Regions from separate parts of the Homo sapiens genome. Here region 1 is linked to region 2. Evidence: fine-mapped expression QTL. A gene starts in region 2. The other region holds a variant in brackets. All regions are shown on one strand. Distances are between the middles of the regions. Region 1 overlaps SPATA31G1 (SPATA31 subfamily G member 1). Region 2 holds the start of DNAJB5 (DnaJ heat shock protein family (Hsp40) member B5).

What was found. PIP is the estimated chance that this variant, and not a neighbour inherited with it, causes the effect. A credible set is the group of variants that fine-mapping cannot tell apart.
Region 1: its variant is the best candidate, but not a certain one, in a credible set for the expression of DNAJB5 in whole blood (INTERVAL, PIP 0.53).

Annotation. Positions count from the first base shown.
Region 1 is chr9:35,044,985-35,050,352 of GRCh38, reverse strand. It overlaps SPATA31G1 (SPATA31 subfamily G member 1), which reads right to left. Exons shown (of 2, transcript NM_203299.4): 2 at 4,367-5,368. The coding sequence ends at 4,484. It also overlaps the pseudogene RN7SL338P. Among named protein-coding and RNA genes, the nearest start is that of SPATA31G1, 5.4 kb to the right of the region's middle. The variant C/T (reference allele first, on the strand shown) is at 2,525.
Region 2 is chr9:34,986,413-34,991,780 of GRCh38, reverse strand. DNAJB5 (DnaJ heat shock protein family (Hsp40) member B5) reads right to left here and starts at 2,036. Exons shown (of 5, transcript NM_001349723.3): 1 at 1,950-2,036; 2 at 969-1,282. The coding sequence starts at 1,150. DNAJB5-DT (DNAJB5 divergent transcript) reads left to right here and starts at 2,402. Exons shown (of 2, transcript NR_109756.1): 1 at 2,402-2,622. RefSeq lists enhancers at 1-921, 922-1,851, 2,406-2,615 and silencers at 2,133-2,281, 1,796-2,295.

The DNA.
Region 1 (5,368 bases), 59 kb before region 2:
TTGAGATGGAGTCTTGCTGTGTTGCCCAGGCTAGAGTCCAGTGGTGAGATCTCGGCTCACTGCAAGCTCCACCTCTTGGGTTCACGCCATTCTCCTGCCTCAGCCTCCCTAGTAGCTGGGACTACAGGCACCCACCACCAAGCCCGGCTAATTTTTTTGTATTTTTGGTAGAGACAGGGTTTCACCATGTTAGCCAGGATGGTCTCGATCTGCTGACCTCGTGATCCACCACCGCCTCGGCCTCCCAAAGTGCTGGGATTACAGATGTGAGCCACCGTGCCCGGCCTTGGTCAGTATCTTTACCTTTCCCTTTATGTAAATGTTCTTGGTTGAGCGTGGTGATGGTGGCTCATGCCTATAATCCCAGCACTTTGAGAGGTCGAGACAGGAGGATTGGTTGAGGCCGGGAGTTTGAGACCAGTCTGGGCAACAAGAGTGAGTCCTCATTTCTACAAAAAATAAAAAAAAAAGTTTGCTGGGCATGGTGGTACACAGCTGTAGTCCTAGCTACTCAGGAGGCTGAGGCAGGAGGATCACTTAAGCCCAGGAGTTAGAGGCTGCAGTGAGCTGTGATTACACCACTGCACCCTAGCCTGGGTGACAGAGCATGACCCTGTCCCTAAAAGCAAAATTCTAGAGGTCAAGAACCAAACTAGATACCCATACCATATTCGGAGTTTCCCCCAAGCGACCCAAATATCATTCACAGCTATTTGGACCAAACCAATATCTAACCTAGGTCCACAAGTTGGCATCTGTTAGATTCCTTTATTCAAACTTTGAAAAATAAGAGACAGGGTTTCGTTCTGTTGCTCAGGCTAAGAGTGTAGTGGCTATTTACGGGTGCTATATCGCTACTGATCTGTGCAGGAATTTTATCTGCTGTGTTTCCCACCTGGGCCAGTTCACCCCTTCTTAGGCACTGGTGGTCCCCCACTTCTGGAAGGTCACCATTATTGATGCCAAACTTAGCATCATTCGGTTCCCAATCGTCATGGCACACTACATCCTGGGCTCAAGGGATTCTCCTGCCTCAGCCTCCCAAGTAGCTGGGCTTATAAGTATGTACCACCACCCCTAGCCTTTTACTCAAACTTTTATGACACTTGTTGAAGAGATCGGGGCAGTTGATCTCCAGAGAATTGTAGCCATGTGCAGGATGGATTAGAAGGAATAGAGCAACCAATTTAGTGAGAAATAATGACTAAGACAATAGTGATGGTGGAAATGGAGAGGGGAAGATGGATTTGAAATACATTTCATAGGTATAATTGACAAGTTTTGTTTTGTTTTGTTTTGTTTTTTTGAGATGGAGTCTTGCTCTATTGCCCAGGCTGGAGTGCAGTGGCATGATCTCAGCTCACTGCAACCTCCGCCTCCTGGTTCAAACAATTCTTCTGCCTCAGCCTCCCAAGTAGCTGGGATTACAGGTGCACACCACCACACCCGGCTAATTTTTGTGTTTTTAGTAGAGATGGGGTACCACCCAGGCTGGTATCGATCTCCTGACCTCAAATGATCCTCCTACCTCGGCCTGCCAAAGTGCTGGGATTACACGCATGAGCCACTGAGCCTGGCTGACAAGATTTGGTGATGGCTTAGATCAGGGAGGAAGGAAGAGTCAAAGCTTAAGTATTTAGGTGGATGTCATGCATTTTGATAGGAATGGGCGTGTTGGAGGAAAAAGTTAAAGGGAAAATACGTTTTTGGACAAGTCAAATATGAGATAATGTCTGGTATGCTGTTGAATATGGGGACCTGAAGCCTAGAGATGCTTAGAAATGACTCATGTTTTTACAATACACCATATTTAATGGAATGGGCTCAAGACATTCTATTTTTAAAAAATGGTATTGGTAAATTGGACATGATTTTGGGGAAGGTTAGATTATCACCTCATACCATAAAAATCGGTAATCTAAAACATAAATATGCAAAATTATCAAAGTGCCAGGAGAAAATGTTTTAGAAGTCATGAAGTAAAGTGTTGGTAGATTTAACTACATAAAAAAATTTTTCTTTGATACAATAGAAGTCACCATAAAATTAGCCAATAAGATACAAATTGGAAGAAAATATTTGGAACATACATAATAGTTTGGGTCACTATCTCTGTAGGCAGGATCATGGCCCTCAAGATGCCCACGTCGTAATCCTTGGAACCTATGTATATATTATTTCACATGGAAAAAGGGGCATTAAGGTTCCAGGTGGAATTAAGGTTGCTAATCAACTGACTTCATTTATTTATTTAGAGACAGGGTCTTGCTCTGTCGTCAAGGCTGGAGTGCAGTGACATGATCTTGGCAACCTCCGCCTCCTGGGTTCAAGCGATTCTCCTGCCTCAACCTCCGGAGTAGCTGGGATTACAGGCACACATACCATGCCAGGCTAATTTTTGTATTTTTAGTAGAGATGGGGTTTTGCCATATTGGCCAGACTGGTCTTGAACTCCTGGCCGCAAACGATCCAGCTGCCCTGGCCTCCTGAAATGCTGGGACTGTTAAGGCATGAGCCACTGCTG[C/T]GCCTGGCTATCAACTGACTTTAAATTGGAAGGGTGTCCTGGATTATTCAGCTTTGTCCAGTGTAATCATAAGGGTCCTTAAAAGTGGAAGAGGTAGGGTCGGGCGCAGTGGTTCATGTCTGTAATCCCAGCACTTTTTGGGAGGCCGAGGCGGGTGGATCACTTGAGGTCAGGAGTTTGAGACCAGCCTGACCAACATGGAGAAACTCCATCTCTATTAAAAATACAAAATTAGCCAGGCGTGGTGGCGCATGCCTGTAATCCAAGCTACTCAGGAGGCTGAGGCAGGAGAATCACTTGAACACAGGAGGCAGAGGTTGCAGTGAGCCGAGATTGTGCCATTGCACTCCAGCGTGGGTGATAAGAGTGAAACTCTGTCTCAAAAAAAAAAAAAAAAAAAATGGCTCACGCCTGTAATCCCAGCACTTTGGGAGGCCAAGGCGGGCGGATCACGAGGTTAGGAGTTCGAGACCATCCTGGCTAACATGGTGAAACCCTGTCTCTACTAAAAATACAAAAAAATTAGCCCGGCGTAGGTGGTGCACACCTGTAGTCCCAGCTACTCGGGAGGCTGAGGCAGGAGAACGGCATAAAACCTGGGAGGCGGAGCTTGCAGTGAGCCGAGTTCGTGCCACTGCACTCCAGCCTGGGAGACAGAGCGAGACTCCATCTCAAAAAAAAAAAAAAAAAAAAAAGTGGAAGAGGGAGGCAGAAGAGGTCAGAGTGATACAATGTGAGAAGAACTTGACTTGCCTTTGCTAGCTTTAAAGATAGAAGAAGGGGGTCAGTAACCAAGGAATGTGGGCAGCCTCTAGAAACTGGGAAAGGCAAGGAGTGAATCCTACCCAGAGCCTAGAGAAAAGGATGTAGGCCTGCCAACCCCTTGATTTTAGCCCTGTGAGACATGTGTCAGACTTTTTTTGCGGGGAGGAGACAGGGTCTCTTTTGCCCAGGCTGGCATGTAGTGGTGCAGTGGCTCACTGTAGCCTTGACCTCTCTGGTTCAGGTGATCCTCCCACCTCACCTTGCCCAGTAGCTGGGACTATAGGCATGCACCACCATGCCCAGCTAATTTTTGTGGTTTTTTTGTTTTTTTTTTTTTGTAGAGACAGGGTTTTGTCATGTTGCCCAGGCTGGTCTCAAACTTCTGGGCTCATGCTATCAGCCCATCTCAGCCTCCCAAAGTGTTGGGATTACAGATGTGAGCCACTGCACCCAGGCTCCGTGTCAGACTTCTGACAAAATAAATTTGTTTTGTGGTAATTTGTTACAGCAGCAGTAGAAAACTGTAATACATTGACTAATACAATGTCCAACAAATAGTGCATTAGAAAATGGGTAGAGGATATGACCCGGTGATTATAGAAATCCAGACGGTTACTAGACGTATTAAAAGACACTTGTTTTCATGGCCTTGGAGATGGATGAGCTGACCCAGGGAGAGAAAAGAGCAGAGGGCTGAGAAGAAATGGTCAGAAAGATACGTGGAGAACTTACAGGTCAAGTGGATGAAGAAGAGAACAATACCCAGGACAAAGCACAGTTGCCTAGACTCAGATGACCTGTGCTCGTGTGAATGGATGTAGTTTTTTGTTCACATGCTGTGAAGTCGTTCCCTCTCAAGGGCGGCTTTGGGCTATGCTGACCTGGCCCTGTAGCCTCACCCTATAGAGTAGGGATGTGTGGACTCCAGATGTGATCATCTGTGAAGATCCACAAAAGAGTTAAGCCTGCAGAATCCTGAGTGCTCTACTGGGACTTGAAACTGAGGGGCTATGGCTGTAGCAGAATTGGGAATTGACATTTTCAGTACCCTAGATTCCAAAGAAGACATGAATGGGATTTATCTAATTCAGCTAGTTTATTAGAATTTCCATTTCTTGTCTCCACATCCCCACCTTCCCCCTGGTTTGGCTTCAGGTCTTGGCATACCAAGTGCTAGTATTACCAGCCTTTTCTCTACTGACTAGATTTGGTGGGTAGGGGTCGATGGTTATCCAGGCATTTGGCTAACACCTTTTGCAAACCCCTGGTAAGGGAAGCCTTGAGGGTAGGGAAGGAGAGATACTTCTCCATGTGGGCCCAAGGACAGTGCTTACAGTGGCGAGGGGTCAGGATGTCACTTGCTCTTCGCCCTGCCTCTGGCTGATCCTGGGGACCCGAAGCTTTGGGGAGAAGCAGCTGGGGAAGAGCAGTGTGTTGAGAGCTCTGGCCCCTGTGTTGAGACCTTTGGGGAAATGTGCTTACAGGGGCCTCTACTAGGCTTCTGGCCTGGGCAGGGTGGTTCTTCCCTGTGACTGTGGATAACCCCAACCTTGCAGTCCCTCTTCTATGGTCTCCTGCTTTGGGTTTCCTAGGGTGCTCTCTCTTTTTGGCTGAGGATGAGGCTGAAGCCTTGTCCTTTCTCTTGCCTGAGACCAGAACCTTAGAGTTTGAGGGTTCTCCTGGGCCTGGAGATAGATAGTCCACACCAGCCTCCATGTGTACACATGGCCCTTGGGATGGGACCTGGCTCACCATCTTCCCCTTCATTTTCTCCCCTCTCTGAGACCCTTGTTCCGCCCTGCCAGACTCCTGTGGCTGAAGCTGGGAAGAGGATTGGAAGTGATGACAGTGGGAGGACTGGACAGGCTGAGGTACTGTGCGCTGAACTTCTTGAGGATGACAACTTGAAGAGTGGGGGCATGGATTGGGGGGATAAATCTGCTGTGGTGGGCAGGAAGGGAGTCCCCAGAAGTCTGGAATTGTGGAGCTCAGAATAGGGGAGCTGCAAAATGATTGACTTGGGCCAGGGGCTCTGGAGGCAGGGCTCTGCCGCAGTTTCTTCAGCCTGAGTTTCAGCTC
Region 2 (5,368 bases):
GCGGGTACTCCCCCATTGCCCCCCACCAGCATGTCACGTCTGTGGGGGAGATGGGGTGGGGGGTGGGGTTGGGAGAGGCAGAGAAGAAAGAGCACCTCGTTGGGGGGGGGGGCAACCGTTTTCGGAAATGGCAGCAAAAGCCGTCTGAGAGGGAGCGGGGGGGGGTGGTCTGCCATTTCTGCCTCAACCCACACCTTCTTTCCCCTGGGACTGGGAAAGAACCCTAGCACACCAAGAGGGTGCCCCTAGAGAACGAGAGCAGCTTCCAGGCAGAGGGCCAGTGGAACGGCTCACCAACCACCCACCTCCTTTTGGTGTCCCTGCATTACCTCCACACCCGGCCAGCTTCCTCCCTGGTACCCACCTGCTAGCTGCTCTAGGCCCATACATCTCTTGCCTCCGCAGACACAGGGCAAGCTCTTTCAGGATCTGCCTCCTTTTTCTCTTTCTGCTTTCCTCCCTCCTTCCCTTCCCCCCTACCCACAGGCCACGTGTTGGAATGACAAAGGAGCCCCATGGCATGGCACTGCCTTTGATGGAGAAGAATGAGGAGGATGTTAAGGTAGAGGCAGGAAGGAAAAATGGGGAGAAAATGGCGAGGGGGACTGTTGAGGTACAGGGAGGGGAGATGGCTGATACAGAAAATGAGGTACTGATGGAGGGGGATGAGTGACAGATGGAAATGGCTGAGGTGGAAAATGGGTTAATGATGGGTTGAAAGGGAGGAATGTGGAGAGTTGAAATAATGGAGGAAATGTCTGTGGAAAATGGATACCTGAAGGGTTTGAGAAAAGGAATGATAAGGGGTGCAATTCATTCAAATATGTGGGTGAGGCCGGAGGGGGGTTCCTGTATGTCACAGAGGGGATGAGGATGAGTTGGAGGAAGCAGGAAGGCAATGGAGGGGATGGCCGCGTGGAGGGTTTGACTGGGTATGGGTGTGAGTGCCCTTCTCCGGAGGGACTTACCGAAACTTTACAAACCCATTCAGCGTCCACGCTCGAAGTTTTAAGGGCTCCAGCTGAATTTTAAACATCAAGCTGGCTAAGAAGTCTTCTCCCCAGGAGTGTGGGAAGCTCCGGAAAGCTCCTCGGGCCTGCAGTGGGGGTGCTGCTGGGGGTGGGCAGGAGAGCACTGTGCGCTTAAACATGCCCAGCCAAGCCCCTCACCTCTGATCGCTCCACCGGAGCCGGCCTGAAGTGCTGCAGCTCTGGAAGCCACCTCCTTGGACTCTCAGAGGCGCGTGCCCAGCAAGGCCTGTCTGGCGCAGCAGGTGCCGGACCTGATCCCCAAATGTGGAGAGTGAAGGGAGAAGACCCGCGGCCACCTGCTCTCAGGTGCAGCAGTGTCTGGCTGGCTGTGAGCGGCTGTATGGCAGCGTGTCAGTGAGGCTGGGAGTGCAAGCGTGTGTTTGTGAGTGGCAGCGTGTATACCTGTGACAGGTGTGATTGTGAGGGCCCGAGAGGCAGTGAGCTCCTGTCGCCTCTCACTGGGGAGGACCCGACCCCAATCCCCAAGAACCTACTCAATGAAGTCACTGACGGGAGTCTCCTCCCTCGCAGATGGGCGGGGCAGAGCGGAGCTCGGCCGGGACAAAAGGCGCGGCGAGGAGAGGAGGGGAGGGGGCTCGGGCGGGGGAGGGTGGTCGGTGATGTCACCCGCGCTGGCTGGCTGGTCTGCTCACAGATGCCTCCGCCCCACAGAACCCAATCTGGTCCGGTCCGACTCGACCCTCCCCTCCCCTCCCCTCCCCGACTCAGACGCTGGCTGCCCCCTGTGACAGCCAAGCCCTGGTCTAGGACTCCGAGCACCCTGCAGACCCCGGGGCCCCGCATCCCCAAGGCAGCAGAGCCTACGGGCCCTCAGTGTCCCAACCCCCCAACACCAGGAGCCCTGGCTTCACGACGCCCCGCTCCCGGGACCCCCGAGTCCTGGCTTGGCGCCCTCACCGGTGAGGAGCTGCGGGCGCCGCCGTGGTCCGTGAGACAGCCGCTGCCCCCTCCCCCGGCTCCGGCTCCGCCGCCTCCACCCGGGACAGGAGTCGCCTGCCCGCCGGCCGCCGATAGCGGGACCGGGAGCCCGCCCCCACGGCTCCGCCTCCGCGCCGCCCATTGAACCGTCTTCCTGTCACTCAGCTCAGCCTCCACTGTGATTGGGCAGTTTTCAACAAGCGGCTTGGTGATAGCCGCCCATCCTCCGCCCCTGTCACCCGGCCACACGCGCACACATTCCAGGCAGTGATTGGTGTGGATCTGATTGGCGCCCTCTGGGATCACTCAACCACGCCTCTTTGCCATCTTGTCGTGCCATTGGTGAAAAAGACAGAGGGCGGCAACCTCGCTCGCCCTTTGATTTTATTGGTTCGTGCCTGAGACTCAGACCCGAGCCCGGGGGCAAACTATATTAGTCCAATCTCCGGGTTGAGAAGGTGGGACGTACTGGCCACTGCTCGAATCCCAGGAGAACCTTCTGGAACCCTTGCGACGTCAAAGGCAGCCTTAAAGGAAAACTGTACCCACCAGTTGGCCGTGCGGCCGTGCATTCTTTCCTTTCTTCATTGGGGGGCAAGAGGGAGAGAACAGTGCACTCTGGGAGGTGTAGTCCCTGGACCGGGGCCAAAAGGTCAGCACTTCTTACTCGCCTTTCAGCCAACGGTGTAACCACCTCAAGCTGACCTCATTTAGCTTTACCTTATCCTGACCCCGCGGTGGCCTGATGTGACCTAACGGAATCTCTAACAGACCCCACGGATGCCGGGTTTCAGAGCCCCCCGGACCTCTCCCCCGAGGGAAACGGATGGCTCTGCCCAGGCCGGTGCCTCCAGGAATCTCCCCCGCCCACCCTCTGTACAGCCCCTCATCCTCGCGCCCCTCTTCAGCGACCCCGCGGTCTCCATTTCAGTCCCTCTTCTAATCAGTCTCTCATCCTGCTTCCCCCTGGAGTGCCTGTGTTTTAGCCCTTTCCTTCTTGGCCCTAGATGATCTCCTGTCTTCCTTCCCGCAGTGATCCCTTTTGTCTTATTCTTGGTTCTTTCTTTACACCCCGATCTCCTATCCTAGCTCTCCCCTTTCATCTTTCATCTCACTCCCCAAGATCCCCTTCCTTAACACCCTCAGAATCTCTAGTCTCCCCCACCCCCCATTAAGTCATTAGATCTCAGCCCCAGTGTCCCCGATGCAGGGAGCAGGCGGGGCTGCGGAGGCGGTCGCCAGCGGAAGCCGCCACTCCAGCAGACACGGTGCCTGGCGCCCACGTCACTGTCTCCCAGGCCCATCTGTGCTCGAGGGAGCGGGGGTGGGGAGGGAGTAATTTGGGGGTGAAGTGGGGGAGGGGAGTGCTGGGGGGTTGATGATGATAGAAGGGTCAGGCCGGAAGCTCCCCTTTACTTCTTTCTTTCCTATTTTCCAGAGACAGAGTTTGGACACCCATGAGGTCTTGCTAGAAACTGCAGCTTGAGTACCTGGGCCAAGAGCAGAGCAAGGCGGGGGGGGGGTGCCAGGGTCCTGGAGTCATGTCTGTAGATTCTTCACTACCTACCTTCATGCCAGGAGTCACTATGGGGCTCCCAAGGGTAAAGGGGCATGAGGTGTGAAGGAAGAAAGAGACTTGGGGTGAAAGGAGGATGGAAAGGAAGTGGGGTTGGGGGCCAGGAGGGGAGCAGAGATGGGTGATGAATGTGGGGAAATGAGCATGAGGAATTTGAGGAAATGGGGTTGAGGGGGGGAGGTAGGGAGAGGGGGTGGTGAGAGGATGGTGAGATGGGGTGAGGGGGATGAGGAGGGGAGGGGCATGGGGCAGATGAGCCATAGGGTGGGAGTAAGGAGGGCAGAGGAAAGGAGGGCTGGGGAGGGGAGGGAAGGCAGGGTGGGGGATAAGGAAAGAAGGGCTGGGGAGGGGCAGGAAGGCAGGGTGAGGGATGAGGAAAGAAGGGGTGAGTAATGAAAGGATGAGGCACAGAGATGGGGTGAGGAGGAGTGAGGAAGGGGGAGGGGAGGGAGGAGGGATGGACATCTCTGTGTGACACAGAGATGGGTAAGGTGGGGTGAGGGGCCCTGCACCGCTGCTGGCTCCTCAGATCTGGGGGCTCTCACTCTTCCACCTCCACACCTGTGGGGCCCAGGCTGTGGGTGGCTCTACTTCTTCCTATTCCAGTTCTGTCTCTTTTGCCTCCCCCAGCCTTGCCTGTGCCAACACGGAGGCAGAGAGTTTAGTCACCAGCCTTTACCTGGCCCCTGCTAATGCTAAAGTGTAGGCTCGGACCTTTGAGGGTGCAGAACTGTGCCTTCAGGTGTTGGTGGCACAGACTCCACTGTTTGCCTAGTCCTCGGTTCCCGCCCTCAGTCCCATTGTCCTGGGTGTCACGTGTGTGTAGTGCTCAGTGTGGCATGGACTGTGACAGTGTGGTCTGGAGTCTATGCACCTTGTGAGCTTACACGCCACACTCATGCCTCATCTCCTTTGTAAATGGGGATTGGTGCCTCAGGGGGTTGTTGAGAGGGTTAATTAAGGTAACACAGGTAGTGCACTTAGTTCTGAGCTGGGCATGTAGTTTATACCCAACCAATGGTTAACTTGGTTAACTCAACCAAGTTAACCATTACTCTACATGTTCACAGATGCTGGGAGTGCGAGTGCATCTATAAATCTGTGAGTCTGGGAGTTATTTGTAGTGTGGTACTGGTAATGTGATTTGTGAGTGGATCTGTGCAGTTATTTTTGTGTGGTGGTGTGCCTGATTCTGTTATATGTTGTAGGTATATGATTTTGGGTCAGTGTACATGTGTGAGTAAATGACTGTGCGGGCATGTGTCTACATGACAAAGAGTGGATAAGGTATATAGGCACTGACACATTGACACCATGTCTGCCAGCGTATGCACGCATCTGCGATCATGCCAGTCCCAAACGCCCCCACTCACCCTCCCTCCCCTTGGAGACGTCATAACCCTAGGTGTCCCTCATTTCCTCACCCTGAGGGAACCGGAACCCGTGGGCAGGGGTGGGGGTGGGTGCCAGTGAGGAGGTGTTTTAGACAGAGGCACATGTTCCCTCCCAGACTGTATAGGGAAGGGAGCCCCTATCCTGCTCACATCCCGAAGGCTGCAGAGGAAGTGCCCCCAGCCTGTTTTCAGTTCCCTGTCTTGTCACCATGGTAATGGTTGCCAGGGGTTCCCATGGTTGCTAAGATCTGGGTGTGGGAGGCTGCCAGGCCCTGTTGCCAGTAGAAACAGAGAATCCTGGGGGGAAGGAAGACTACCCTCACAGCTGCCACCTCCCTGCAGTGACAGAACTGGCCCTTGGGCCACTTCTCTCCCCCAGTTGTACCTATGAGTTGTATGTGGTAGTACTAGTGTGTGTGTGGGAGCAG